Homo sapiens: one gene and its partners. The protein of the gene in region 4 purifies or fractionates together with the protein of the main gene of each other region. This does not show direct contact. Each region holds a gene or a part of one and is shown on either strand. Other genes may lie near its edges. The genes, in order: THEM4, RP9, GTF2F2, LBH, HABP4, DHX38 and OTUD4.

The links.
Region 1: the proteins of LBH (region 4) and THEM4 purify together in Homo sapiens (affinity purification with mass spectrometry; one large-scale study listed by BioGRID and IntAct). This does not show direct contact.
Region 2: the proteins of LBH (region 4) and RP9 purify together in Homo sapiens (affinity purification with mass spectrometry; one large-scale study listed by BioGRID and IntAct). This does not show direct contact.
Region 3: the proteins of LBH (region 4) and GTF2F2 purify together in Homo sapiens (affinity purification with mass spectrometry; one large-scale study listed by BioGRID and IntAct). This does not show direct contact.
Region 5: the proteins of LBH (region 4) and HABP4 purify together in Homo sapiens (affinity purification with mass spectrometry; one large-scale study listed by BioGRID and IntAct). This does not show direct contact.
Region 6: the proteins of LBH (region 4) and DHX38 purify together in Homo sapiens (affinity purification with mass spectrometry; one large-scale study listed by BioGRID and IntAct). This does not show direct contact.
Region 7: the proteins of LBH (region 4) and OTUD4 purify together in Homo sapiens (affinity purification with mass spectrometry; one large-scale study listed by BioGRID and IntAct). This does not show direct contact.

The regions. Positions count from the first base shown.
Region 1 is NC_000001.11:151,895,706-151,899,890, forward strand, and holds part of THEM4 (acyl-coenzyme A thioesterase THEM4), read right to left. Parts: intron 1-4,185. UniProt on the Homo sapiens protein: Has acyl-CoA thioesterase activity towards medium and long-chain (C14 to C18) fatty acyl-CoA substrates, and probably plays a role in mitochondrial fatty acid metabolism. Plays a role in the apoptotic process, possibly via its regulation of AKT1 activity.
Region 2 is NC_000007.14:33,102,342-33,106,526, forward strand, and holds part of RP9 (retinitis pigmentosa 9 protein), read right to left. Parts: intron 1-4,185. UniProt on the Homo sapiens protein: Is thought to be a target protein for the PIM1 kinase. May play some roles in B-cell proliferation in association with PIM1.
Region 3 is NC_000013.11:45,126,890-45,131,074, reverse strand, and holds part of GTF2F2 (general transcription factor IIF subunit 2), read right to left. Parts: intron 1-4,185. UniProt on the Homo sapiens protein: TFIIF is a general transcription initiation factor that binds to RNA polymerase II and helps to recruit it to the initiation complex in collaboration with TFIIB.
Region 4 is NC_000002.12:30,255,051-30,258,232, reverse strand, and holds part of LBH (protein LBH), read right to left. Parts: intron 801-3,182; coding exon 612-800; 3' UTR 1-611. UniProt on the Homo sapiens protein: Transcriptional activator which may act in mitogen-activated protein kinase signaling pathway.
Region 5 is NC_000009.12:96,480,740-96,484,924, reverse strand, and holds part of HABP4 (intracellular hyaluronan-binding protein 4), read right to left. Parts: intron 464-4,185; coding exon 292-463; coding exon of another isoform or gene 268-291; exon of another isoform or gene 266-267; intron 1-265. UniProt on the Homo sapiens protein: Ribosome-binding protein that promotes ribosome hibernation, a process during which ribosomes are stabilized in an inactive state and preserved from proteasomal degradation.
Region 6 is NC_000016.10:72,103,162-72,107,346, reverse strand, and holds part of DHX38 (pre-mRNA-splicing factor ATP-dependent RNA helicase PRP16), read right to left. Parts: coding exon 4,136-4,185; intron 3,746-4,135; coding exon 3,559-3,745; intron 3,402-3,558; coding exon 3,216-3,401; intron 2,862-3,215; coding exon 2,721-2,861; intron 2,321-2,720; coding exon 2,210-2,320; intron 2,116-2,209; coding exon 1,999-2,115; intron 1,831-1,998; coding exon 1,723-1,830; intron 1,343-1,722; coding exon 1,230-1,342; intron 8-1,229; coding exon 1-7. UniProt on the Homo sapiens protein: Probable ATP-binding RNA helicase. Involved in pre-mRNA splicing as component of the spliceosome.
Region 7 is NC_000004.12:145,170,424-145,174,608, forward strand, and holds part of OTUD4 (OTU domain-containing protein 4), read right to left. Parts: intron 1,298-4,185; coding exon 1,247-1,297; intron 1-1,246.

The DNA of each region.
Region 1 (4,185 bases), on a different chromosome or scaffold from region 4:
ATAGTTTGGATGTGTGTTCCCGCTCAAATCTCATATTGAAATGTAATCCCCAAAGTTGGAGGTGGGCCCTGGTGGGAGGTGAATGGATCATGGGGGTGAATTTCTCATGGACGGTTTAGCACCATCCTCCTCGGTACTGTCCTCATGATAGTGAGTTCTCATGAGATCTGGTTGTTTAAAAGTGTATAGTACCTTGTGCCTTGCACTCTTGCTCTTGCTGTGTCCATGTGAAGTGCCTGCTCCTGCTTTGCCTTCTGCCATGACTGTAAGTTTTCTTGCTTCCTTTTTTTTTTTTTTTTTTTTTTGAGACAGAGTCCCACTCTGTTGTCCAGGCTGGAGTGCAGTGGCGCAATCTTGGCTCACTGCAACCTCCACCTCCTGGGTTCAAGTGATTCTCCTGCCTCAGCCTTCTGAGTAGCTGGAGTTACAGGTGCCGCCCCACCACACCCGGCTAATTTTTGTATTTTTAGTAGGGATGAGGTTTCACCATGTTGGACAGGCTGGTCTCGAACTTCTGACCTTAGGTGATCTGCCCACCTCGGCCTCCCCAAGTGCTGGGATTACAGGAGTGAGCCACTGTGCCCGGCTGACTGTAAGTTTTCTGAGCCCTCCCCAGCAGCCAAGCAGATGCCACCATCATGCTTCCTGTATAGCCTGTAGAAATGTGAGTCAATTAAACTTCTTTTCTTTATAAATTACGCAGCCTCAGGCATTTCTTTATAGCAATGTGAGAACAGCCTAATGCAGTGGGCAAAAGAGGCATGAAACAGTTTTGAGGGGCCTTATTACAATCATATGAAGTAGGTACTATTTATTATCCTCATTTTGCAGATGATGAAATTAAGGCCTAAAAGAAGTTTGGCATTATTAGGGTGCAAGAATAGGGGCAGATGGCTGCAGAAATGCATGTAAAACCTTAACACTAAGCTAACTGGCTTGAATTGTATCTGCAGTGCTCTCTGAGGGATTTTAAATGGGGGGTAACATGATTAGATCTTTCCATAATATAAAAGATAGTGGGAGTGTCCAAGGTTGAAATCAGAGGGCCCTATTTGGAAGCTACTAGGGTAACTCAGGTGAGAAATCATGAGAGCATGAAGCAGAACTTGGTGACAATTTGGATAAGGAGGGTAAGGGAAAAAGAGAAATACAAGACCCAGTACCAGGATTCTGAATCCTGCAGTGAGGTGAATGACAGAGCCAATTACCAAAAAATATAGGAGAAAGAGGAGTAGGGAGCTCAGGGGACAAGTTTTTGGTGTCACAGTAACCACAACTTCCATCCATCTATTTCTGTAGCACCAAGCACTGCTATTACTCCAATGCCCAGGCAACAAATGGAACATTGCAGGGATCCTAGAGGACCTGGAAGACAAAGTGTGACTTACTCAGGAGCAGAACAAAGTGTATGCCCACAAACACCAGAAAGGAAACTGGCTTTTTGGACTGCTGCAGTTATCTTGGAACATGTAGGATCACAGAAGCTATTAACTCCATGGCATTCTACTTTCAGCCACCCTTATCAATTCATTCAGATTTAATGTACCTACAATACACACACTGCACCATAAAACCAAAACGGGGAGGTCACAGTATGATGGGAGAACCAGCTTTCTGCTGACAGGGGCTGGCTCCAATGCTGGCTTGGTGGGAAGAATACAGAGAACCTGTCTCAAAAACTCTATGGAAGAAGAGACAGCCTGGCCTCCCAACCTATATCTTTCTTCCATGCTGGATGCTTCCTGCCCTCGAACATCGGACTCCAGGTTCTTCAGTTTTGGGACTCTGACTGGCTCTCCTTGCTCCTCAGCTTGCAGACAGCCTATTGTGGGACCTTGTGATCGTTCTTAATTATTGTAGGAACATAATACGTGTTGGATTGGGCAGAGTGATTCCTCCAACTTTCTTCAAAATCGTATTAGCTGAGCATGTGGAGGCTTGTATTGTGAATTTTAGTTCAAGATTGACTGCAAGAACCAGCAATCCCAAGAGGACCCACAGACCCTCTGAAGGAAGCGGACTACTCCTGCAGGACCGGGAGACATCCCAAATACTGTGAGTGCCCCAACTGTGGAATTGGGAAAGAAAGACCCTCCTCTCCTGAACACACACCCCTACTGGAGAAGCTGGTCTGTCTGCAGGAGAAATTTCTGACTTTACCTGGAGCTGAGTCAAGTTAGAGAGCTAAGCTGAGCGAAATACAGGGTAAGGGAAGCAGCAGAAAGGCCCTGGGAGCTCACTGGGTCCCCAAGCAGCCCATACCTGCCTGGCACCACAGGGATTCATCAGGAGGGTGGCCAAAGGAGCAGGGGGTAAAATTCCACAGGGAGAAGAAATTCTGCGGCTGAACTTTGTAACAGTTTGAACTGGGGAGAAGCTTCCTGGCCAGAACTCGGGGAGGGCATGAACCCGGCTTGCAGACTTCACAGGTCGGGGAAGAACTAAAGCCCTTTTCTTTTGCAGCTGGGAGGTGGAAAGCCTCAGACAAGTTTTCAAGCCCGTCTTGCCCTCCACCTGGAAACAGACACGGGGATGTTGGAAGGGCATGGTGGGAGTGAGACCGGCCCTTCGGTTTGCATGGGAGCTGGGTGAGGCCTGTGACTGCCGGCTTTCCCCAACTTCCCTGACAACCTGTATGACTCAGCAGAGGCAGCCATAATTCTTCTAGGTACACAACTCCAGTGACCCGGGAATCTCACTGCCATCCCCCACAGAAGCTGCAGCAAGATCCCCCCAAGGAGAGTCTGAGCTCAGATGTGCCTAGCCCCAGCCCCAGGTGATGGTCCTTCCCTATCCACCCTGGTAGCAGAAGACAAAGGGCATATAATCTTGGGAGTTCTAGGGCCCCGCCCACCACCGGTCCCTCACCATACTGCTACAGCTGATGCTTTCTGGAAAGTGCCACCTCTTGGCAGGAGGCCAACCAGCACAAAAGTAGAGCATTAAACCAAAGCTAAGAACCCTCACAGAGTCCACTGCACCCTCTGCCACCTCCACCAGAAAAGGCACTGGTATTCATGGCTGGGAGACCCATAGACAGCTCACATCACAGGACTCTGTGCAGACAACTCCTAGTACCAACCCAGAGCTGGGCAGACTCACTGGGTGGCTAGACCCAGAAGAGAGAAAACAATCACTGTAGTTCAGCTCACAGGAAGCCACATCCACAGGAAAAGGGGGAGAGTACTACATCAGCAGAACACCCTGTGGAACACAAAAATCTGAACAACAGCCTTCAGCCCTAGACCTTCCCTTTGACAGAGTCTACCTACCCAAATGAGAAGGAACCAGAAAACCTACCCAGGTAATATGACAAAACAAGGCTTGTCGACACCCCCCAAAAATCACACTAGTTCACCAGCAATGGATTCAAACCAAGAAGAAATCCCTGATTTATCTGAAAAAGAATTCAGGAGGTTAGCTATTAAGGCAATCAGGGAGATACCAGAGAAAGGCAAAGCCCAATGCAAGGAAATCCAAAAAATGATACAAGAAGTGAAGGGAGGGCCAGGTGTGGTGACTCACGCCTGTAATCCCAGCACTTTGCGAGGCCAAGGTGGGCAGATCACAAGGTCAAGAGATTGAGACCATCCTGGCCAACATGGTGAAACCCCATCTCTACTAAAAATACAAAAATTAGCTGGGCATGGTGGCACACGCCTGTAGTTCCAGCTACTCGGGAGGCTGAGGCAGGAGAATTGCTTGAAGCTGGGAGGTGGAGGTTGCAGTGAGCCAAGATTGTGCCACTGCACTCCAGCCTGGGCGACAGAGTGAGTCAAAAAAAAAAAAAAAAGAAGGGAGAAATATTCAAGGAAATAGCTTAAAGAAAAAACAATAAAAAATTCAGGAAATTTTGGACACACTTTTAGAAATGCAAATTAACCTAATCCAACAAAGAGAAAGAAAAAGAACAAGAAAATATGAACAAAGCCTCCAAGAAGTCTGGGATTTTGTTAAACTACCAAACCTAAGAATAATTGGTCTTCCTGAGGAAGAGGACAATTCTAAAAGCTTGGAAAACATATTTGGGGGAATAATCGAGGAAAACTTCCCTGGTCTTGCTAGAGATCTAGACATGCAAATACAAGAAGCACAAAGAGCACCTGGGAAATTCATCACAAAAAGATCTGCACCCAGACACATTGTCATCAGGTTATCCAAAGCTAAGACAAAGGAAAGAATCTT
Region 2 (4,185 bases), on a different chromosome or scaffold from region 4:
GTCACTGTCACCCAAGCTGGAGTGCAGTGGCGTGATCACAGCTCACTGCAGCCTTGAACTCCTGGGTTCAAGCAATCCTCCTGTCTTGGCCTCCCAAAGTACTGGGATTGTATACATGATCCACCGTGTCCAGCTGCAGTTAATTCTCAAGATAAAAAAAAGTTGATTGAGATGCATTATTTTGTGCCATCTGAAAAGCCTTACTTAGTCATTCAGACTGTACTAACTTTCTCTGAGTAGGAAGAAGACCAGTTATGTCTGAGACACGCTGTCTTCTCAAGTGTGTACAGAGTAAGAAATCTTTTGTTAAGTGTTTCAAATTACTCTTTCTGTTGACTGTTGAGATGGGTTTTCTTTGAGAAGAGTCCCTAATGCAAGTGTACTCCATTCCACACAATTGTTCCTGCAGCTGCATCCAAGGGGCTGCGTGGCAGAGGTGAAACTGCCACATACACCCAGAAGGTCCACTCTGTTATGCCTGGCAGCCCAGGAGCTATTAAGTGACAGAGAGTGTTGGAGCAGGTGGAAGCCTCGGATGCCCTCAGGGGCCTGGCAGGCAGGGTCACCGAGGGAAAACTGTGGTGGAGACTCAGGAGACTCCATCACATCAGGGATGAAAAGATTTGAATTCAATTTATAAAAGAGCACTGTGGGGCTTCCCATTTAACATGGCCAACTGACCAACATGCTTATCTATCTCCTTCCCCAGATGCTTTAAAAATGACAGTGAAAAAATAAAAAGGCCATAAAGATATCCCAAAAGGAGGCAACATCAGAGGAAGTTTTCAACAAATTTGGGAAAGTGGAAATAGCAATGGATTTCCTGGGGTGGAAGAAGTAACACTTTTCAGAAGATGAGGCTTCCTTCCTATAGCCAGGAGGCTGCCTGCCCAACACTTGAAGGAGGCTGCAGGGTTAGCCTCTCCAATTCAGCAACACTGGCAGCCAGGCAGAGATCCCTGGCCCCCAGGCAGAGGACTCAAGACCCTTCTCTAGAGGAACTTAGGAGCCCCAGAAAAAAATCTCCAACTACTGACATTTGGAAGTCTCTTGATAAAAAGGGTACCCTGCAGCATGAGCGCCCTATCATGAAGCTATCTGATCAACAAACAACACCTTCTCTCTTTTTTCTCTCCCACACACAGCTGCCCTTGACAAGAGCTGTATAGCGCCTACTCTTAAATGAGTTGAGGCCAGAGCAGCGGCTCATGCCTGTAATCCCAGCACTTTGGGAGGCTTAAGTGAGAGGATTCCTTGAAGCCAGGAGTTCGCGACCAGCCTGGGCAACATAGTAAGATTCCATCTCTAAAAAAAAAAGTGTAAAAAAACTAGCTAGGTGTCATGGTGTGCACCTGCAGTCCCAGCTACTCTGTAGGCTGATTCAGGGGGGATCACTTGAGCCCAGGAAGTCGAGGCTGTAGTGAGTTATAATCGTGCCACTGTGCTCCAGCCTGGGTGACAGAACGAGAGCTTGTCTCTAAAAAACACAAAACAAAACAAAATATGGTTGAGATTCAAGAATACCCAGATATTAGAGAAAAAAAAATTACTAAATGTAAGACAGCAATCAAAATAAAAAGCAAACAAGAAATAGAGGCAATGTAGGGAACAAAAGACAACAAAAAAGAAAAACGAGTGAGTATCCTCATAGATGAGTGAAGATATTTCACTTATGAAACAAGAACAGGATAATATAAAAAACAACTTGCAGAATGAGAAAAAGCTTTTTGATTTAGAAATATAACAAATATGTTTAGTAGAGAAAAAGATACATCTACAAAGTACAATGAAAATACAAAGACAGAAGAGATAGAGCAACAGAAAATCAACAGAAGGAAAAAACAAAATTGGGGAGAGGAAATAAGACATAAATTTATATATGTAGTTAATGCATTCATGACATGTCAAGAAAAAAAGAGTCAACTGCACAAACTGGGGAACAACACACACTGGGGCCCACTTGAGGGTGGAGGGCAGGCGGAGGGTGAGCATCAGAAAAAATAACTCTTGGGTACTAGGCTTTGTACCTGGGTGATGAAATAATCTGTACAACAAATCCCCATGACATGAGTTTACCTGTATAACAAACCTACACAGGTACCCCTAAACCTAAAATAAAAGTTAAAAAAAAAAAAGTCAATTGGAAAAGACTAACATTATCATGAAACTTCAGGATGGCAGCAATAAAGAATAGTTTCTTAACGTTTAAGGGTGAGGTGAACTTGAACAGGTAACTTATAAAAGAAAGGGACTCAGAATGGCATCAAACTCCTTAGCAGTTTTGGAAGCTAGAAGATAGTGATGTACTATCGCCAAAACTGAGTGAAAATTGTTGTTACTATTTTCCTCCTGCCTCAGCCTCTGGAGTAGCTGGGACTACAGGTCCATATCATTGTGCCTGGCTAATTTTTAAATTTTTTGTAGAGACAGGGTCTCACATTGTTGCCCAGGCTGGTCTTGAACTCTTGGCTTCAAATGATTCTCCTGCCTTGGCCTCCCAAAGTGTTGGGATTACAGGTGTGAGCCAGCATGCCCAGCCCCAAAATGATTTTTGACCTGTAATTTTATACCTAGTCAAATTATGTACCAAGTTTTAGGATAGAATAAAGACATCTTCAGATATGCAAGGTGTCAAAAACTTTACCTCCAATGCACTCTTTCATAGGAAGTTGCAGAATTGGCTTTGGTAAAATGTGAGAGTAAACTTATAAAGAGGAAGACATGGAATCCAGGAATGAGATGCAAGATAGGAGAGTGGGAAAGGATGCCCTAGGACCACTGCTGGACCAGGTCTAAAAAGTAACCAGTGTACTGAAGGACAACAGATTGAAGAGTCTAGGTAAAAAATGAACTGACTACCTGATATGTAGTTATGTGTGGAAAAAGTACTATTGGGGCTCAGAAAATGATACCCCAAAGTATGGTGCTTTGGCATGCTGAGTACTTTGAACTAAATGAGATTAGAGAAGGCCTCAGAAGACAGTTGCTCTCTGACCTTCTCTTGCCCTCCTGTCTCCTGCCCTTCTTTCTTCCCCAAAGCAGTCAGAGAGGCCAGAATTCCTCTTTTCCACAAGTGGGCCATAAAAACTAGAACAAGTCTCCCACAAAGCAAGCCAGAAGCCCTACAAATAACTTTAATTTTTTTTTTAAAGAAGATAAAATCTCAGTGGAACTTTTAAAAAAATATTTAAAATAATAATAATAAACTCCTACAAATATTACCCTAACATTTCCTTGCCTTTCTGTGTCAGAGGTGGCCATAAAAACATGAGCTGACCTACCTTGTTTGATAGATCAGGACCCCTCATTCCAGAAAGGGTCCTGCCCCATATCTGGGAGGAAGTAATCGTACACAGAGAGGCCTGAAAAATCTGAATAGACAGGGCTTGCTGGATTTTCCCTATGACCACTGTATTATACCCTTTTTTGTCTAATCATATTTCTACACTGCTATACATTCTTCATCCAAACTAAGCATAAAAATAGTTTCCTCTGGGTCTCTGGGTCTTCCTTTGTCAACGTTCCCATGTCACATAAAACTTTGATTAAATACATTTGTTATGCTTTTTTCTTGTTGACCTATTTTTTGTTATAGGAGTATCTGCTGTGACTCCTATGATAGGTAAGGAAAGATACCTTTTCACCTTTATGGTACTCAGATTTTGGAGACATTGGGGGAAAAACAGCAGTAGAAAATTAAGTAAGTGAAAAACAAAGGCTCTTATTAACTACTTAAAAGTTAACAATAGTATAGAAAGCAAAATAAATCAGAGTACACTACCTGGCTCAAAGTGAGTAATAATTCATAGTTATATTGCTGTTTTTTTTTTGTTTGTTTGTTTTTGAGACAGGATATCACTCTGTTGCCCAGGCTGGAGTCCTGGAGTGCAGCCATGGCTTACTGCAGCCTCAACCTCCCAGGCTCAAGCAGATCTTCCCACTTCAGCCTCCCAAGTAGCTGGAACCACAGGCATGTACCACCATGCCTGGTTAATTTCTTTTTTCCTTCTTTCTTGCAGAGATAAGGTCTATAAATGCTGCCCAGGCTGGTCTAGAACTTCTGGCCTCAAGCGATCTTCCCACCTCTACCTCCCAAAATGCTGGGATTATAGGCGTGAGCCACAGAGCCCAGCCTAGTTATAATAATGTTAATACTAAGCATTCGTTTAGCAAAAATTGCTATGA
Region 3 (4,185 bases), on a different chromosome or scaffold from region 4:
CTCCATGTTGGTCAGGCTGGTCTCAAACTCCTGACCTCAGGTGATCCGCCCACCTCAGCCTCCCAAAGTGCTGGGATTACAGGCATAGGCCACCGTGCCCAGCCCTGTATACTCTCAATCTTAAGTAACTTCATCCAGTCTCGTGGCTTTAAAATACCATCTGTATGACAACTCTCAAACTTACAACAAGCTCAGGTTCTCCCCTGAAGTCTCAATTTATATATCCAACTGCCTACTCAAACTCTCCATCTTAATATTCAGTAAGCATTTCAAACTTAAAATCTCCATACTAGAACTAATTTCTCCCTCATAAACCTTGCTCCTGCTGCAATTTTCCGTATCTTAATAAAAGGCAACTCCATTCTTCCAAACACTCAGGCTGAAACCTTGGAGTCATCCTGAATATTTTTTTCTTATACCCCAAATCCAATCAACTGATACATCCTGTCAATATCTTCAGATTATATCCAACTCCAGCCTTTTCTCACCAACTCGAGTTACTACCCTAGCCCAAGCCACCATCATCTCTTGAATAATTATTGTTTTAACAGCCTCCTGATTTCCTTGCTTCCACTTTTGCCCATGTACAGTTTATTCTCAATAAAGCAGCCAGAATGGTCATCTTAAAACCTAAGTCAGATGATACTGTTCTGCTCAAAACATTTCCATTTATTTAACAGACATCTACATAGTGCTTACTATGTTTACCAGACACTTTTCTAAACACTTTACAAATATTACTCCATTTAATCCTTATAACAGCCCTATCATCATTCTATTTTGCAACTGCAGAAACTGAAGCACCAAAAAGCTATTATTTGCCCAAAGTCTCACAATCACTAGCGGTGAAACTAGGATTCTAACCTAAGCAGTCGACTCCACAGTCCACGATTTTAGTCACCATGCCATGCTGCCTCTCCATGGCTACTAGCTTCCCATCTCACTCAGAAGAAAACTCCTATAATGTCTTAGGTGACCCAGTTCCCTGGATGATCCTATCCCATATCTTCAACTCCTACTCTCCCTCTCACCTTACTCAAACCACACAGACCTGTGAACATTTGCGGTGACGTCCCATCTAAAGACGCATTTGCTGTTATTTCTGTCCGGAACACTCTTCCCATGGGTATCTGCAAGGGCAAGCCCATAAATTCTTTACGTCCCTGCTTAAAGACCATCTTATCAGTGAGGTCCCTTCCTGCCCTATTTAAAATAGCATCACCAGTTACTTTATAGATCCTTGACCTTGTTTTATTTTTCTTCAGAGCACTTATCATCTGCTTTAAATGTATTTGTTTATCGTCTATTCTCCCTCCTCATTAGAACGTAATCTAATTAGAACGTATCTGAATAGGCAGATATTGTAATTTTGTTTACTGTCATATCTCTAGCATCCAGAATAGAAGAATAGTTATCATTTTAATGAGTGGATATTGAAGAAACACTAATGTAACAGCAATGATGGTCAATACTGGAATATACCTAGGATATATAATTTACTACACTTCATTTCATTCTCAGAGGGAAGTCTCAGTTCAGAGATCCACCTTAAAATAAGGGGGAAGGGTTGGGCATGGTGGCTCACGCCTGTAATCCCAGCACTTTGGGAGGCTGAGGTGGGTGGATCATTTGAGCACAGGAGTTCGAGACCAGCCTGGGCAACATTGCAAAACCCCAACTCTACAAAAAATACAAAAATTAGCCAGGCATGGTGGTGTGTGCCTGTAGTCCCAGCTACTCGAGAGGCTGAGGTGGGAGGATCACTTAAGCCCAGGGAGGTCGAGGCTGCAGCGAACCATGATCGTGCCACTGCACTCCAGCCTGGGTGACAGTGTAAGACTCTGTCATAAATAAATAGGAAGAGGACAAAATGCAAATAGTAGAGTAGGACATTTTCTAACCTACTACTTTGCCCTAACTGCTATACCCTGAAATGCTCTTAAAGAGAACACAAGAATGTTTGGAAGCTTTGGAACTCTTAAATGAGATCATACTTCTTCAACATATTAACCAGATCAGGATTTTCTGTGATCAAACTACTGGAGACTACGATTTAGGCCTTCAAACAAGAAAGCACTTCAAGGGAAAGTAACTATATATCATACATTAAGGCAAATTTAAGAATCAAATTCAGTACAACAAATTATACCTAATACAAGCAACTGCCAACTTAAAAACATTGTGTCGGGCATGGTGGCTCACACCTATAATCTCAGCACTTTGGAAGGCTGAAGAGGGAGGATCACTTGAGCCAGGAGTTCGAGACCACCCTGGGCAACATACGGGGACCCCATCTCTACAAAAAATTTAAAAATTATCTAGGCATATTAGTGCACACTTGTGATCCAAGGTACTTGGGAGGTTGAGGCAGAAGGATCGTTTGAGCCCAGGAGTTGGAGGCTACAGTGAGTCATGATCACATGCCACTGCACTCCAGCCTGGGTGACAGAGCGAGACTCTTTCTCAAAAAATAAAATAAAATAAAATAAATTTTATTTTTTTGAGACGGAGTCTCACTGTGTCACCCAGGCTGGAGTGCAATGGCATGATCTTGGCTCACTGCAACCTCCGCCCCCCAGGTGCAAGTGATTCTCTTGCCTCAGCCTCCCGAGTAGTTGGGATTATAGACGCCCGCCACCATGCCCAGCTAATTTTTGTATTTTTAGTAGAGATGGGGTTTCACCATATTGGTCAGGCTGGTCTCGAACTCCTGACCTCGTGATCTGCCCGCCTCGGCCTCCCAAAGTGCTGCAATTACAGGCGTGAGCCACTGTGCCCGGCCGCAAAAATAATTTTTTAAAAAGGCCAGGGGGGAGGCCGGGCACAGTGGCTCACACCTGTAATCCCAGCACTTTGGAAGGCTGAGGCAGGCGGATCACGAGGTCAGGAGATCAAGACCATCCTAGCTAACATGGTGAAACCCCATCTCTACTAAAAATACAAAAAATTAGCCGGGCATGGTGGCGGGCACCTGTAGTCTCAGCTACTCGGGAGGCTGAGGCAGAAGAATGGCGTGAATCCGGGAGGCAGAGCTTGCAGTGAGTCGAGATCGCGCCACTGCACTCCGGCCTGGGTGACAGAGCAAGACCCGTCTCAAAAAAAAAGAAAAAAAAAAAAAAAAAAAAAAAAAAAAAAAGGCCGGGGTGCCAGGCACAGTGGCTCATGCCTGTAATCCTAGCACTTTGGGAGGCTGAGGCGGGCAGATCACAAGGTCAGGAGTTCGAGTCCACCCTGGCCAACATGGCGAAACCCCGTCTCTACCAAAAATACAAAAATTAGCTGGGCGTGGTGGCAGGCGCCTGTAATCCCAGCTACTCGGGAGACTGAGACAGGAGAATCACTTGAACCCAGGAGGCGGAGGTTGTAGTGAGCCAAGATCGTGCTACTGCACGCCCAGCCTGGGCGACAAGAGCAAGATTCCGTCTCCAAAAAAAAACAAGGCCAGGGGTGGTGGCTCATGCCATAATCCCAACACTCTAGCACTTTGGAAGGCCAACGTGGGTAGACTGCTTGAGTCCAGGAATTTGAGATCAGCCTGGGCAACATGGTGAAACCCTGTCTCTACAAAAAAAAAAAAAAAAATTAGTTGGGCGTGGTGACACATGCCTATAGTCCCAGCTACTCAGGAGGCTGAGGCAGGAGGATCACTGCAGCCCAGGAGGCAGAGGTTGCAGTGAGCCGAATTCACAGCACTTCACTCCAGCCTGGGAGACAGAGTGAGACCCTGTCTCAAAAAGAAAGACCAAAAAAAAAAGCAGATTGTGCTCCATAAGTTAATGGACAAAAACAAGTTTGCAGCTCATATTGCACTGTCTTCATTATTATAATAAAACTGTAGATTCCCAGGTAAGCCCACCAGCTTATTTAATTCAAAGGTTCCTAAAATACTACACCCTTGCAATAAAAAATAATAATAATAGCACATTAATTATATATAACTCTCTACACCACGAACTTACAGAAATTGGCTTCCCAGAAGTCCCGGCCTATTAAGTCTCAAAAGAGGGAGGGAGAGGAAGAAAAAAATGACAGTATATATGGTTTCAAGGCTCCAAAACACCACTGTCAACATATCACTTACGATGTATCTGTGTTATTTCCACTATCTCACTCATTACTGAAAATCAGATGGAGACAAGGTAATAAGTACAACAGGGTATGGTTGCTTAGATTTCCCAATACCAG
Region 4 (3,182 bases):
CCTTTACTCTCCTCCCTGTCATATAGACCAACACACCTGAAATGAAAGCAAAGGGTGGGGTGGGTGAAACTGGAGAGAGAGATGAAGACTTTGTTTTCTGATGTCCCAGCAGCCAGAGTGAATGTCTGCTGAGCGCATCCTGGCTGCAGTTCTCTGCTCAATGTTTTCTTAAAAACATGTATTTTTTCTTTTGCCTCATGTTTGTTTTCTTACCCCAAATGTTCCTTGCTTGCTTTGCACATGCCCCACCTCCCACCCACCAAGACCCATTGGAATCCCACCACTGCCTCTACTAGGCTGCCTGAGTTCAGATAATGATCTCAAAAACAGCACTCGCTCCCCTCACCCACTAACCCCCTGGCTCTAAGCAGCTTCCTTTCTCAGAGGGCCTTGCAAATTGTCAGAGGGCTCCACTGCTCGGCAAATTTCAAAAAAAAAAAAAGGCAAGAAAAGAAAAGAAAACCAACTCGGTGATCTGCAGGTGCAAAACAGAAGCCTCGTTTGACATTTTCAGAACAATTGCGGCTCACTCTCTTCTTCCGTCATGATGGGAAAAACACAGTTCAGGAACAGATGCTGGCTGGTATGACCCATGGGAGTCCACAGGGACTCTACTGCTCTTTATTTTCTTTCGCTGTCTCTTCGCAGTTATCTTGCTCATCCTCCTGGACCAGGAACTCCTCAGGGGGCCACCGGAGCTCCCCGCTCTCCACCTCCCCTTCTGTGGGTTCCACCACTATGGAGGGCAGACGGTCCTTCAGTTTGCAGCAGCGGTCAAAATCTGACGGGTCTGGGAAGATCTGAAAGAAAAGCAGAGCAGGTGCCTGGTCACGTAGATATTTGAAAAGAGAAATTCCATTCCTTCTTTGCACATCCATGTGGCATACTGGGTGCATGCCATAGGCCAGGGACTGTGCTTTGCACTCGGGAGGCTGTGGAGTATATAAGGTGGGAGCCACGGGAGAATATTCTGGGGCAACATAGGAAACTGTCCCTCAGTCAGACTTCCATTCCAATCCTGAAGCTGAAAGTTTGGGGGCAGTGCCGCTGAGTTTAAAGGTTGATGTGATTCTGTTTGGATTCTGTATTTTATTTGCAGATAAAATCATCCCAAATCATGTTATCCACAGTAAGTCTGGTCTCTCTCTGCAGGAAGTATTTTACTCCAGCAGTACAAAGAATACAACAGGTGCCACAGCATTAAGTACCTCCCGGAATAATTATTGGCACTAAGTGAGCAGGTTACCAGGTGCTATACATATATCACTTCCAACCCACACAGTCATGCTGAAAAACAGGTGTTGCTAATGCTAGCTTAAAGAATCTCAGGCTTGGGAGAGTAGGTGGTCCAAGACCAGACAGCCTAGAAATGAGTGAGGGATGGGATGAGATTGAAAACTGGGTCTGGGCTGGGCCTGGTGGCTCACACCTGTAATCCCAGTGCTTTCGGATGCTGAGGCAGGTGGATCACGAGGTCAGGAGATCGAGACCATCCTGGCTAACATGGTGAAACCTCTCATATGGTAAACTACTAAAAATACAAAAAAAATTAGGCGGGCATGGTGGTGGGCGCCTGTATTCCCAGCTACTCCGGAGACTGAGGCAGAAAATGGTGTGAACCCGGGAGGCGGAGCTTGTGGTGAGCCGAGATCACGCCACTGGACTCCAGTCTGGGCGACAGAGCGAGACTCCATCTTGAAAATAAAAAAAAACAAAAACTGGATATGTTCGATTCCCCTGCCCCAACACCAGCTTGTCCCTCAAGCAGATGGGTCCTCATCCCATTGCAACTGTAAAGTCAAAGCCAAATCCTGATGAACGGCATGGTCCCCAGTCACAGGCAGGCTGGGAACAAAATCCAAGGATCCTTTTTCACCTGTGAACAGTTCCTGGCTTCTTGCCAGCTCTACACCTGAAGGAGTCTACTTCTTTTTCCAGAGTCCCGTCAGCCAGGCTTTGTTTTTTAATGCCTACTTTGTGTCCTGCCCAGAGCTGGCAGAAACTCCAAACCCAGCTATAAAATCAGGGCCAAATCTGGCTCTGCGGATTCCCTTTGCATACACTGCCCTGTGACTACAGCTGACCCAATTCTTGGCCCAGCAGTTTAAGTACTTAATCCGCTGGGCTGCTGGTCCCTGCCATTCACAGCCCTCAGTGACACACCCCAGAGCTAGAGAGAGAAGCCTCTGTCTGGGATGCTGGGCTCCCAGAATCAGGCACTTGGCACCTTCATGGCCATCTCTTCCCACCTCTCCATTTGGTAGATGAGCAACTCAAGGCCCCAGAGGGGTCAGGAGACCTGCCTAAGGTCACACAGCTTGTTCATGGCACAAGAAAGGAAAGCAAAACTTTGAGTGGGTGGAGACACATTTGAAGAGATCTGGGGGGCTGCCTGGTCCTGCCTGCACCTTGATCCAGATGGGGACAGGCCCACGGCAGCAGACAGGAGTCACCCATTACCAGGACATAGAAGAAAGGCCCTTTTACAAACTCAGGCCTTCCCAACTTCTGTGGTGCTCTGAGGATACCCGGTCTTATTGCAACCCAACCCCATGCAGTGCTGCCCCAGCCAAGTCACACTCTCACCACATCACAGGCCACGTGGGGCTTCCAGGAATCACAGGCCTCAGTGAAGCCTTCCCAATACCTGCAAACGAGTGATTATTAACCATTTATCCAATAAGACCTATTGCTGGGGATTAAGCCTTAAGCCAGCTGCACAACCAGGCATCATTAAAGACTTAACGAGGCTCATAAAAGGTATCATAATGGCAGCCAGGAGGAAAACAAGTCCAGGGAGGGGATGGGCCAGTGTGGGTCACGGAGGCAGAGGGGGACACGGACCCCGACTCTGGGCTCTGTCTTCCTGACCAGGTTGGCCCAGAAGTTCTGCCCTCAGACGGCGCTGTGCCCAGACGTGCATGTGCCGAGCGAGGAGCGCCACGTGGGCTTTTTGGGTGCGTCCTCATTTCTTGGGTGGGGCCAGAGCCCCCCATGGGCTGTGAGGACACAAGGCGCCCTCCAAGCATGAGCTCTGAGAGTGGGTGAGAGGGACCCCGATGGAGGGAAGCCCACTACAGGTCACGAAGCTCTTTCAGATGTCAGCTCGTTCAGGGCTCACTGCCACTCTAGGAATAGTAAGACCCGGGACTCTGTGGGTCACATGGCAGAGCCAGGATTCA
Region 5 (4,185 bases), on a different chromosome or scaffold from region 4:
AGAAAAATGAAATACAGTTAATACACAGTATGTGTACAGTACCCGCATAGTCCCAGGGTGAGCAGAAGATGCACTGTCACTCTAACTGCTCTGTGCATCTGTCAATACCTCAAGTTTCAATTCCTTTTCTTAATGAACAATACAGTAAAATTAGGCATGCATCATCTCTGATTAGAAACAAAGACTGCCAACTACTAATGTTCCATTTTCAAGACAGAAGTGGAAAGGTACATTTCACTTCCAGTAAGGTAAAAGTAAAGATTACCTCTACATACGAAATGCAATGCTTACATCATCTCTGTATTTTGACTTGTGAATCACCACGGCTTTGGAAGGAACAGTGGATTCTGGTTTCCGGATGTTAAACTCAGGCTTTGGTCTGGTCTGTTCTTGAAGATTTTTCCACTCATCTAAAGTCATCTCTTGAACTTGGGTTTCTTCTTCTACCTCCAACTCAGGAACTCTATAAAGAGATATATAATCATAAAGAATACTTTTTGATGGTACTAAAATGTCTACTTTATAAAGAAAAAGTTATAACCATTAATTCAACATATTTTTGTGGTACTGCATTTCAAATGCAAATAAGGTAAGGAAATCTTTGACTCACAAGCTTCCATATTTCATTTTCAACATTTTATGTCATCACTGCCAACAGAAGATACTTCCTATCTGTGTTCAAATCAATCTTTGAAAAATGGGAACATCACCATCCTGATGACATTAACATCACACTTCACCACTGGCACTCCCTTCCAGACAGCATGACAGACAAAATGAGGTAATTATGGACAATGGGTTGAAATAAAATACAGGAAACCATAAACAAGTTTTAAAGCAGTGGCTCATGAATGCATACTTTTGCAAATATCCTCTTTAATGAGTTTTAAAAAGAAAACAAAAGACAGAAATATAGATTGAGAGCAAAGAATTCAGAGTCCAGAAATAAACCCTCACATTTACGGTCAACTGATTTTTTTTTTCCAACCGTGGTGCCAAAGACAATTCAATGGAGAATGAAAAGTATTTTCAACAAACGGTGCTTGGGCAACTGGATATCCACACACACCAAAAGAAAGAATGAAGTTAGACCTACCTCACACCATAAATACAAGAGCTAAAATATAAAACTCTTAGCAGAAAACCTAGGCAGAAACTTTCTTAACCCTGGACTGGGCAATGGTTTCTTCCACATGACACCAAAAAAACAAGCAACAAAAGTACATACATTGAACATCATCAGATACTTTTATACTACAAAGGACACCATCAAGAAAGTAAAAAGACAGTCCACAAAATGGGATAAAATATTTACAAATAATATATCTCACAAGGGACTTGTATCTAGAATACATAAAGAATTCTTTATGAACAGCCAAGCGTGGTGGCTCATGCCGATAGTCCTAGCTACTCAGGGGGCTGAGGTGGGAGGATCGCTTGAGGCCAGGCATCTGAGGCTGCAGTGAGCTATGATCACACGTGTGAATGGCCACTGTGTTCCACCTTGGGCAACAGAATGAGACACTGTCTCTTTAAAAAAAAAAAAAAGAATGCTTTATGAATTCTAGATACAAGTCCTCTTTAGTTGAGACAAATGACCACCCTCCCCCCAAAAAAGGCAAGGATCTGAGTGAACATTTTTCCAGAGAAGATATACAAATAGGCAGTAAGATGTTGCACATCATTAGCTATTAGAGAAAGACAAGTCAAAACCACAGAGCTGCACCAGTCCACACCCAGTGGGATGGTTAGAACCAAAACGACATTTGACAAGCGTTGGGGAGGATGTGGAGAAACTGGAACCCACATACACTGCCAGTGGGAATGTGAAATGGTGTAGCCTCTTTGGAAAGCAGTCTGGCGGTTCCTCAAAAATCTAAGCTGAGTTAGCCTCTGACCCGGAAATTTCACTCCTGGGTTTATACCCAAGAGAAATGAAAACACACATCCACATGAAAACTTAAACCCAAGTGTTCACTGCAGTGCTATTCATAATAGCCAAAAAGTGGACACAACCTAAATGTCTATTAACTAATGAGTGGATAAACCAAATATGGCACATTTTTTGGAATATTATCTGGCAATAAAAAGAAACAAAGTATTAATACACATTACGACATGAACAAACCTTGAAAAAATGATGCAAGTGAAATAAACCAGGCAGAAAAGACTTCTGTGTATGATTCCATTTACATGAAATATTCAGAGGAGCCAGATTCACACAGACAGGAGGCAGGTCAGTGGTGGCCAGGGCTGCAGGGAGGGAGGATAGGGAGTGACTGCTGAATGGGCATGGGGTTTCCTTTTGGGATGATAACAACCTTCTGGAGCCAGATCATGGTGATGGTTGCATAACACTCTGAATGTACTAAATGCCACTGAATTGTACACTTTAAAAGGATTAAAATCGTAGATTTGAAAATCATCACAAAAATACACACAAAAAAAGAAAAACAGAAATGAAGACTGGCACATGCTACAACATGAATGAAGCTGAAAACTTGATGCTAATAGTTAAAATAAGCCAGGTGCAAAAGGAACATTGAACGATTCCACTTAGATGAGGCACCTAGAATAGGCAAATTCATAAACACGAGTAAAATAGAGATTACTACATGCTGAGGAGAAATGGGGAGTTAGTGTTAAATGGATATAGAGTTTCTGTTTGTGATGAAAAAGTTCTACAAGGCCAGGCACAGTGGCTCAAGCCTGTAATCCTAGCACTTTGGGAGGCTGAGGCAGGCGGATCATGAGGTCAGGAGTTCGAGACCAGCCTGGCCAATACGGTGAAACCCCGTCTCTACTAAAAAATACCAGAAAAATTAGCCGGGTGTAGTGGAATGTGCCTGTAGTCCCAGCTACTCAGGAGGCTGAGGCAGGAGAATCGCTTGAACCCGGGAGGTGGAGGTTGCAGTGAGCCGAGATCGCACCACTGCACTCCAGCCTGGACAACAGAGTGAGATTCCATCTCAAAAAAAAAAAAAAAGTTCTAGAGATGGATGGTGGTGATGGTTACACACAATATGAATGTTACTGATGCCATTAAATTATATATATTAAAATGGTAAAAATGGCAATTTTTATGTTATTTTTACTGCAATTTTAAAAAATTAATAATGTAACATACCCCAAACCATCCATCCATGCATTCAGTCGTTTACTCATTTATTTGTTTGATACAGGCTGGGTTTCACTCTGTTGGCCAGGCTGGAGTACAGTGGCATGATGATGGCTCACCATACCTTCAACCTCCTGAGCCCAAGGATCCTCCCACCTCAGCTTCCTGAGAGTAGCTGGGACTACAGGTACGAGCCATCAGGCCCAGCTAATTTTTACAACCATTTTGTAGAGACGGGGTCTCTCCATGTAGCCCATGCTGGTCTTGAACTCCTGGCCTCAAGCTATCCTCCTGCCTCTGCCTCCCAAAGTGTTGGGATTACAGATCTGAACCACCACACCTGGCCTATATACTTAGAGATTTGAGTGCTATAGTACGAGAATTATATCTCAAAAGTGTTTAAGGGGAAAAAACAGGCCGGGCGCGGTGGCTCACACCTATAATCCCAGCACTTTGGGAGGCCGAGGCAGGTGGATCATGAGGTCAGGTGTTCAAGACCAGCCTGACCAACATGGTGAAACCCCGTCTCTACTAAAAATACAAAAATTAGCTGGGTGTGGTGGCACACGCCTGTAATCCCTGTAATCCCAGCTACTCGGGAGGCTGAAGCAGGAGAATTGCTTGAACCCGGGAGGCGGAGGTTGCAGTGAGCCAAGATGGCACCACTGCACTCCAGCCTGGGCGACAGAACAAGACTCTTTCTCCAAAACAAAACAAAACAAAACAGTAGGTGGGGAGTGGGGAATCAAATCTGTATCTTCACTGAAGAGCTGATGTAATTTAAGGTTCTATTATAGAAATACACAGATCAATGTTATGAAAAATATAAGCAAAATCAGTAGAGAAACCTAACCACAGAGCATCCAAAATAGACAAATTTGCAGTGACTCTACAATACCAAGCTGATGGTAGAAAAAACATCAAAGCAAAGATAACATGAAGGAATATGAAAGAACTTTCTGGCGTGATTGGTAATGTTCTGTATTCGACAGGAGTTTGGATTCCACAAGTACATGCATTTGTCAAAACAGTGAATGTACACTTAAGATTTATACATTTCATAGTAT
Region 6 (4,185 bases), on a different chromosome or scaffold from region 4:
GTAGAGCCTGCCGGGGAGAAGACCCCATCTTCTCACCACAAGGAAACCCCACAGCAGCCAGTACAGATGAAATCCCACAGGGAGGGAGGAAATTCTCATTTCTTCTCCCCACCCACTACTTCAGTGAATCACTGACTTCCACCTATTCAAAACTCCAATCTGCCAATTTAGCCCTTCTTCTGGAGCCTCTTACATGTTTCATTTCTTTTTTTTTTAGACAGAGTCTCACTCTGTTGCCCAACCTCTGCCTCCCGGATTTAAGCGATTCTCCTGCCTCAGCCTCCCGAGTAGCTGGGACTACAGGCATCCGCCACCACGCCCAGCTGATTTTTGTATTTTTAGTAGAGATGGGGTTTCACCATATTGGCCATGGTGGTCTCAAACTCCTGACCTTGTGATCGGCCCGCCTCGGCCTCCCAAAGTGCCAGGATTACAGGCATGAGCCACCACACCCAGCCATCTGTTTCATTTCTAGAACCAATGGGCCTGGGACTAGAATCATGGCTGGGTTTTATTTTCTTGATATTTTTCTATATTCACTAACGCTCTATAGTGAATACATTAATTTTTTTAATTGGAACAAAAAAGGGGAAGAGAGCCAGGCAGAGTGGCTCACACCTATAATGCCAACAGTTTGGGAGGCCAAGACAGAAGAATCGCTTGAAGCCAGGAGTTCACAATACCAGCCTGGGCAACATAGCAAGACCCCATCTCTACAAAATATGAACAAATTAGCCAGGTGTGGTGGTGCCTGCCTGCAATCTCAGCCCCTTGGGAGTCTGAGGTGGGAGGTTCACTTGAGTGCAGGAGATCAAGGCTGCAGTGAGCTGTGATTGCACCACCACACTCCAGCCTGGGGTGACAGAGCAAGACCCTGTCTCTAATTGGAAAAAAGAAAGAAAGAAAATGGGGAAAGAGAACAATAGAAATAAAAAGAACCAATGGCATCATCTGTCCAGACCTACCCTCTGAAGGGAGGCAGGCTGTAATTACCTGCATGTGTACCTACATCCACGTAGGTTGGCCTCAGACCTCTGAAATCCCTGGAAAGCCACTCCTTCCTTCCACTCAGTAGCATAGGATGAAAGGACTAACAAGTGGCAGCCCTGCCAGCAGCTTCCAGCCTTGGGGACCAGCTCTAGAGCCAGCATCCTGCCCGCCCCCGCCCGGGCTCCACGCTCAGCAACCCCAGCGCTGCCCCAGAAAGCAGGCTAGCACAGGGCTCCTACCTGAAACACTGACCTGGGCCCGTCCTGCCGGCTCGCCCTGACCGCTGGTTGGCATTGGCCTGGCTAATGGGATAGATCTGCAGAGCATCCATGCCAATCCTGGGGTTGAAGACCTAGGAGGGGACGGCAAAGAGCTGACGAAGGACAGAGTGAGGGGAAAGTGGAAGTAGGCCTGAGACAAAGGCAAGCCCTGGTTGCTACACATGGCAGAGGAAGAGCCAGGAGGCTCTAGAAATGTTCTCATGAACACCTGAAGAAGTCTTCCCCACAAACACCAGCTCTCTGAGCTCTACTGTTAAATTATCTACCTCATCGAGTATTACAAGGGTTAAACAAACCAAGCACAGTGAGTCAATGTGAGCCTCCCACCACCACCACCACTTCCACGCGCTCCCCACATCCCAGGGCCAGGAGCGAGGCCCTGGCTTCCCACCCCGCAGCTAAGTTAGCTTCTGGTGAACACCCAGGCCTTGCCTCCCATGTCTTCTCTTACCTTTAATTTGCAATAACCAGAATCGATAACAAACATGATGCCGTCAACAGTGAGAGACGTCTCGGCAATATTGGTGGCAACGATGCACTTCCGAACGCCATCTGGAGCCTAGAGCAGGACATACAGGAAGGGAAAAATGAGTCCCTCGAGACAGGAAAGGCTCCGCGAGGGGGAAAAGCCTACCTCCTAGCCCACCCCCTGCCAGGACAGTCACATCCCCTCTCGCTTCCTTTAGAGAACTCCAAGAGCCACTCCTGGACATTCCTGCTGACACACCTTCTGGAAGATTTTGGCCTGGAGGTCAGAAGGCAGCTGAGAGTAGATGGGCAGCACAGCCAGGGCAGGCGCGTTCTCCAGTTCCTCCAGATGCTCCACAATCTGGTCTGAGGTCACCTGAGAGCCCAGGGAGGAGCTGTGAGACACTGGAACCCTAACCTCTCATATGCAAGACACACCCGCTCATCACAGTCGTGACCAAGGCACGCACCTCAATGTCCTCTTGGCCAGGCATGAAGATAAGGATGTCTCCAGGGGCCCCCGACAGGTGCACCTGCAAGGACTGCTTCACTGCAGCCTCCACGTAATCCTCCTGTGGGGTCTGCAACAGCAGTGGGGACACAGTCAGAGGGAGGTACTAGAAGCGCAGGCCGGGCATCTCCTGGGAGCCCAGTGGCCCAGGCACTGCTCTGGAATGGAGCCATGGACTTTGAGGGCCACCACACCTCCACATGGGCCTGACTGCGAGGCCTCTACAAGAGGGCACAGTGCCTCCCTGGGCCCTGTACTTCAGCCTCAAAGAAATAATGAAACAAAACCTCACCCAGAGCAGAGTCCTTTGTCCCCGAGTCCCAGAGCTGCAGGCTGCCCCATTTGCCCCATGGTCCCCAGGAAATCTTCTCCAACCCAGTCCCCTACCCACCCTCCACCCTCCAGCCGGCTTCGCATCAGAGAAGTGCGTGGCATGGAAGGGTCAGTTCGTAACATGGTGGCCTCAATACCTTGCTGAAGAGGATGTCAACAGGGAAGGTACGGCCAGGGATGTGGAAGATGGGGACATTCCCAAAAAAGGCAGCAAACTTCTCCGCATCCATCGTGGCTGATGTGACGATGAGCTTCAGGTCTGAGCGCCGAGCCACTACCTGAGAGAAGAGGCGGCTCGGAGGCCCCCATGGTGGGGACCCTTGGCTCCTGTCCCCCAGTCCCATCAGCACCACCCCCGAGGAAACACAAGCCAAAGCTGACAAATGGGCCTATTCAATTCTTACCAATCATGAAGACTGAAGCAATGGAGCCACTGCCCAGAAAACCCCAAGCCACCCTCAGCAGAGCAAGAACAGCATGAACTACAACCCGAGTCTGAACTGCAACCAGAGGCCTCAGGAACCTCTGGCCTACCAGAGACCCCCTCAGCCCACCTGGAGCAACCCACTAGCTACTGGTGGTGCACTGGTCAACACCCCATGCGCAGAGAGACCAAACCACACAGCCCTCACCTCCCGGAGCAGCCCAAAGAGCACGTCAGTGTTGAGGGAGCGCTCGTGGGCCTCGTCCATGATGATGGCACTGTAGTGATCCAGGTCGGCTTCCCGGAGGGACTCTCGGAGCAGGATCCCGTCAGTCATGTATTTGATCAAGGTGTTCTCTGAAGTGCAGTCTTCAAAGCGGATGGCATAGCCCACCTGGAGGTCAGAGAGATGGCTCAGATGCCCTGGCCACCGGCTCACCACCAGCACACCCCGTACTGGGGTCCGAGTCTTAGCAGATCACACCCTTTAGCAAAAATGGGTGGAAGCTACTAGGGAATAACTACATGGCTCAGCCCCCACGCCCACTCACCTCCTCGCCAAGGTTTCCCCCCATCTCTTCACTGACTCTCTTGGCCACTGACATGGCAGCTACACGCCGGGGCTGGGTACACCCAATCATCCCATAGTCCGTGTAACCATCTTCATGCAGGTACTGCGTCAGCTGAGTGGTCTTACCACTCCCCGTCTCCCCAACCACGATCACGATGCTGTTGTCTCTACAAGGACAAGCAGGCAAAGGGCTTATCAGCCGAAGTGGAAGGCCAACACCCAGCCTCCAAGAAGACTCCGCTACCTCCTATCCCCATGACTAGCTATCCAGGGAGCATGCCGGTTTAGAAGGGAGAATTTCACTGGGACAACAGCCTCTTACTGAGATAACACCTGAAACATCTGGAATACGGTGAGGTTTAAACAGGTGAGCTAAAACAAAATGGTGCCATCCCGTTACTTTGTGCAGTGTACCCCAGGCATGAGGTCAGAGGAAAAAAGTATTTCCCTTCTCCACTGGGTGCAATGCACAAAAGAAAAAGAGCTCCTGGGTAAACATGGGAGACCAAGGGCACCCCTGACTTGACACTAGATTCCTGGGCCCCGGGTGAAGTTACCTGATAATAGTGAGCAGCTCCTGCTGCACTGCAAAGATGGGCAGGTACTG
Region 7 (4,185 bases), on a different chromosome or scaffold from region 4:
TTCAGCCCAGGCATTTCCTATTTAGAATCCATTCAGACTTCAAATACAACTCACTCTCCAAGTGTTGCTTTGTCTACCCAGCTAGAAATAACACTTTGAATGCCTACAGCATCACAGCTATATACCTCTTGTGACAAATCTCCTTTTCTAGCTTGTATTGACCTTCTTTCCTATGATAGGGAAACTTTTTTGTTATCTACATTATCTCTGCATCCCCAGGGTGACTAGGAATTCTTGGCCCATAACAAGCACTCAAATTAGTGTTAGGCAACCAAATGGATACATCAGTCATCGATCAAACACCCTTGGTTCCTACATTACATTCCCTTTACTCCTTAACTCTTCTTAGCTTTTTTCTTTGCCAATGTTATTTTTACCTTAACATTCTAAATGGCATTCCAAGATACTTGGATTTTTACAGTGAGAACGTTAGTTTTGTAAACAGAAAAATTAAGAAAAATCCTTTTAACATAAACATGACTGAAAAAGTATAGCAGCAGGAGTTGGTGAGTAAGTGCTATCCTTTTCTGTCTCAACAGTCTCTTCCCTCTTCACGAGATGATCATGGAAATAGGAACCTGCATGAAAGAACTCTGCCTTCTCAGTTGCCTAGGAAGAAAAACTCTGCAGGCCAGGTGTGGTGGCTCACACCTGTAATCCCAGCACTTTGGGAGGCTGAGGCAGGCGGATCACGAGGTCGAGAGATCGAGACCATCCTGGCCAATATGGTGAAACCCCATCTCTACTAAAAATAAAAAAATTAGCTGGACATGGTGGTGCACGCCTGTAGTCCCAGATACTCGGGAGACAAATCGCTTGAACTCGGGAGGCGGAGGCTGCAGTGAGCCGAGATCATGCCATGCACTCCAGCCTGGCAATGGAGTTAAATTCCACCTCAAAAAAAAAAAAAAAGAAATCAAACTTCACCCTGTCCAAGTTCCATACACACACCAACGTAGCATTCTGAAAATCATCACCCCAGTATTATTTCAGATTTTTATACTACATTTACATGCCATTATAGCCAAGATAAAATATCACAACTCTGCCTTAGTGAGGCAACCTCTAACATATAGCTCCAACTTAAGTGCTGCATAAAATGTGTAGGAAACGTTTATAAGGAAATAGGATACACCGTCACTGCAACTCCTCTATACACTGTAATAGTAATCTTCTATTTTAATGAATTTTAAATACATTATTTGGATATATAAAAATAGAAATATACTAGAAGACTGTGACATACCTGTGGATTTTCCAAACGCTTTAAATATTCTTCAAATGATCCTTCTATAAACTGCAAAAAATAAATCTATTAGAAATGTCATCTAACATATATGCCAAAACAGTTAACCGCTTCGCTGTGTAAACATTCACTGTGAATTACTGAGTTTGTACATAAACCTAAAATACCTCAGTATTATTTAAAAATATGTACATAATCTAATTATGAAAACATATAGCAATCATTAAAGACTATAAACATACAAAAGAATTTAAAGAAGGAAATTCTGTCAGGAAAGGTTTCCTGAAAGAAGAGTGACTCAAGATGAATGCTGGACAGGATCTGGATGGCAACAGGCAGCTGATACTCTACAGAGAGGGCCAATGTGGCGTGAGGAGGAAGAGGAACACTGTGTTGGGAAGACAAGCAATCTGGCCAGCTGGAGCAGGACAACCTGTTGTGGAACTGAGTGGGAGAAGAACCCAAAGGGGGGCCTGTTTACAGAGGGCCTTGAGCCCAGGCAGGACTTGAAGGCTAGATGAGAAAGGCCATTCAAGGCCACTTCAGGTGACATTCTGAACTGAGAAATTATATGATGAAAGCAGTGCTTTAACTTGGTAGTGACCAGTGTGTAGAAGGGAATAAAACAAAGACTGACTTACAAGCTAAGAAATAGTATAGCTTAATAATACAGATAAGAGTACTCATTGTCTCTCAAGTGATACTAGAAAGAGCGATGAGAACTAGTAAGGCGAAAAATATTTTGAAGCATCAACAAAATTTTTCTAATACAGCTTGCTTCATCGCTTCATTGTTACTTTGACATAAAAACAGTTTATTCAAGCTGTGTAATAACACAACCTTTTTTATGTTTCTTTAATAGCAATCGCACTCATTTGAGAAATCTCTAAAAGTCATTTGTTGAACCACCAAATTCAATTGCGTTTAAATTACAGTCCCAGTTGATTTAGCAGAGATATACTTAAAGACATTAAAGTATACTCCCTTGTCTATAAAATCTTTTAAGCACCCTTGGATTTTAAGATTGAGATTCTTTCATAGATTATATAATGTCAAATTGCCAAAAATATCTTAAATTTCGAAAGATATTTATAATAAAAGAGCCATATATATTAAAGAGCCCACCAATAAAGGGCTACTGTTCTGTATTAGATGATTATAGGTCTAAGGAAAAAAAAAACACAGAACCATTTAAAGTTACTAGAGACTGCAGAATTCTGACACAAGCCTGCATCCTCTCTGAGAGTCTCCTTTCTGAGCAGAAAGCGTCCACCTATGCCATGGCTGAACAATGTCAGTAACAAGGCATAATACTTTCTACAACATCTCTTTCCAATTCTGGACAACTGAAACTGCTTGAAGGTTCATAAAAGGAAAGTGAAACTTTTCCCCATGGAACTTTCAACCTCTGATCATACCTCATAAAATTATATGGACTAAGGCCAGGCACGGTGGCTCACGCCTGTAATCCCAGCACTTTGGGAGGCCGGGGCAGGCAGAGCATGAGGTCAGGAGATCGAGACCATCCTAGCTAACATGGTGAAACCCCATCTCTACTAAAAATACAAAAAATTAGCCTGGCGTGATGGTGCCAGGCACCTGTAGACCCAGCTACACTGGAGGCTGAGGCAGGAGAATGGCATGAACCCGGGAGGCGGAGCTTGCAGTGAGCCAAGATGGCGCCACTGCACTCCAGCCTGGGCGACAGAGCGAGACTCTGTCTCAAAAAAAAAAAATTATATGGACTAAAAAAAATATATGCAAAACACTTAATGCCTGGCATATAGTAAGCACCTCAACCAATGTTAGCAATGTCCATTATTATCAACACAGTTTTACCCTCTGGGGCCAATGATTAATAAGAATTAATTTAAAGACCATTCCACCTCCCCACTTCCCTTCTCTACCACACCTCTGCACTCTCTTATCTAGCCTCTGCGTTACCAGGTTTTTTTAATAAAACAAGGTTTCAAGCCTATCATTTGCAAAGTATTATATCAACATTCTCTACCAGTCAACTGGGGGAAATAACACCCAAAGTTGTCAGATTACATAATTCTAGGTCTTAAAACCAGTAAGTAATAAATCCTGTAAGACTTTGAATGTAAAATGAAAACAGGTCACTGTGGCATCTTATTTCACATACTACTGAGAAAATTATATTAAGCTGTTATACAACATTTTATTAACTATTAATCACTACTTACATAATTATAATGTTCTGACATGTGAGTTCACACTGAACCCTGAAAATTAAAAACCTATGAATGCCTTCTGATAAAATTAAGGGTTCAGCATTACTTACACTCAGCGTATTTTTTACACTGCAAGTCTGAATTTTTTTTTTTTTTTTTTTGAGACAGAGTCTCACTCTGTCACCCAGGCTGTGGTGCAGCGGCGCAACTCGGCTCACTGCAACCTCTGCCTCCTGGGTTCGAGCAATCCTCGTGCCTCAGACTCAAGAGTAGCTGGGACTCAGGCATGTGCCACCATGCCACTACTTTTAGTAGACACAGAGTTTTGCCATGTTGGCCAAGCTGGTCTTGAACTCTTCACCTCCCAAAGTACTGGGATTACAGGTGTGAGCCACCATGCCCAGACTGAATTTTTTTTCTTTTAATTTATAGGGAGTTACCCATCACAGAAACCACTATTAATCACAACACCCCCAATTCCCTGACCATGTCAGACAAAGCCCACTCTTAGTATGCAAGGGCCTTGTCCAGGTCATCTTTCCATCCCCCACAGCTCAGCGTCTTATCCATCATAGTAGCTTTCTAAATGTCCAAATAAATGCAAAACATAAAATAGCCTAGAAAACAACATAACTGAATATAACTAGATTAAGTTCAATAGAGAAGTTTTTTTAATAAGTGTTATTTTCATAACCCGCATTAAGATCCAGCCTGTGAAATTCTACTAGAACACTTCTAAAAGCC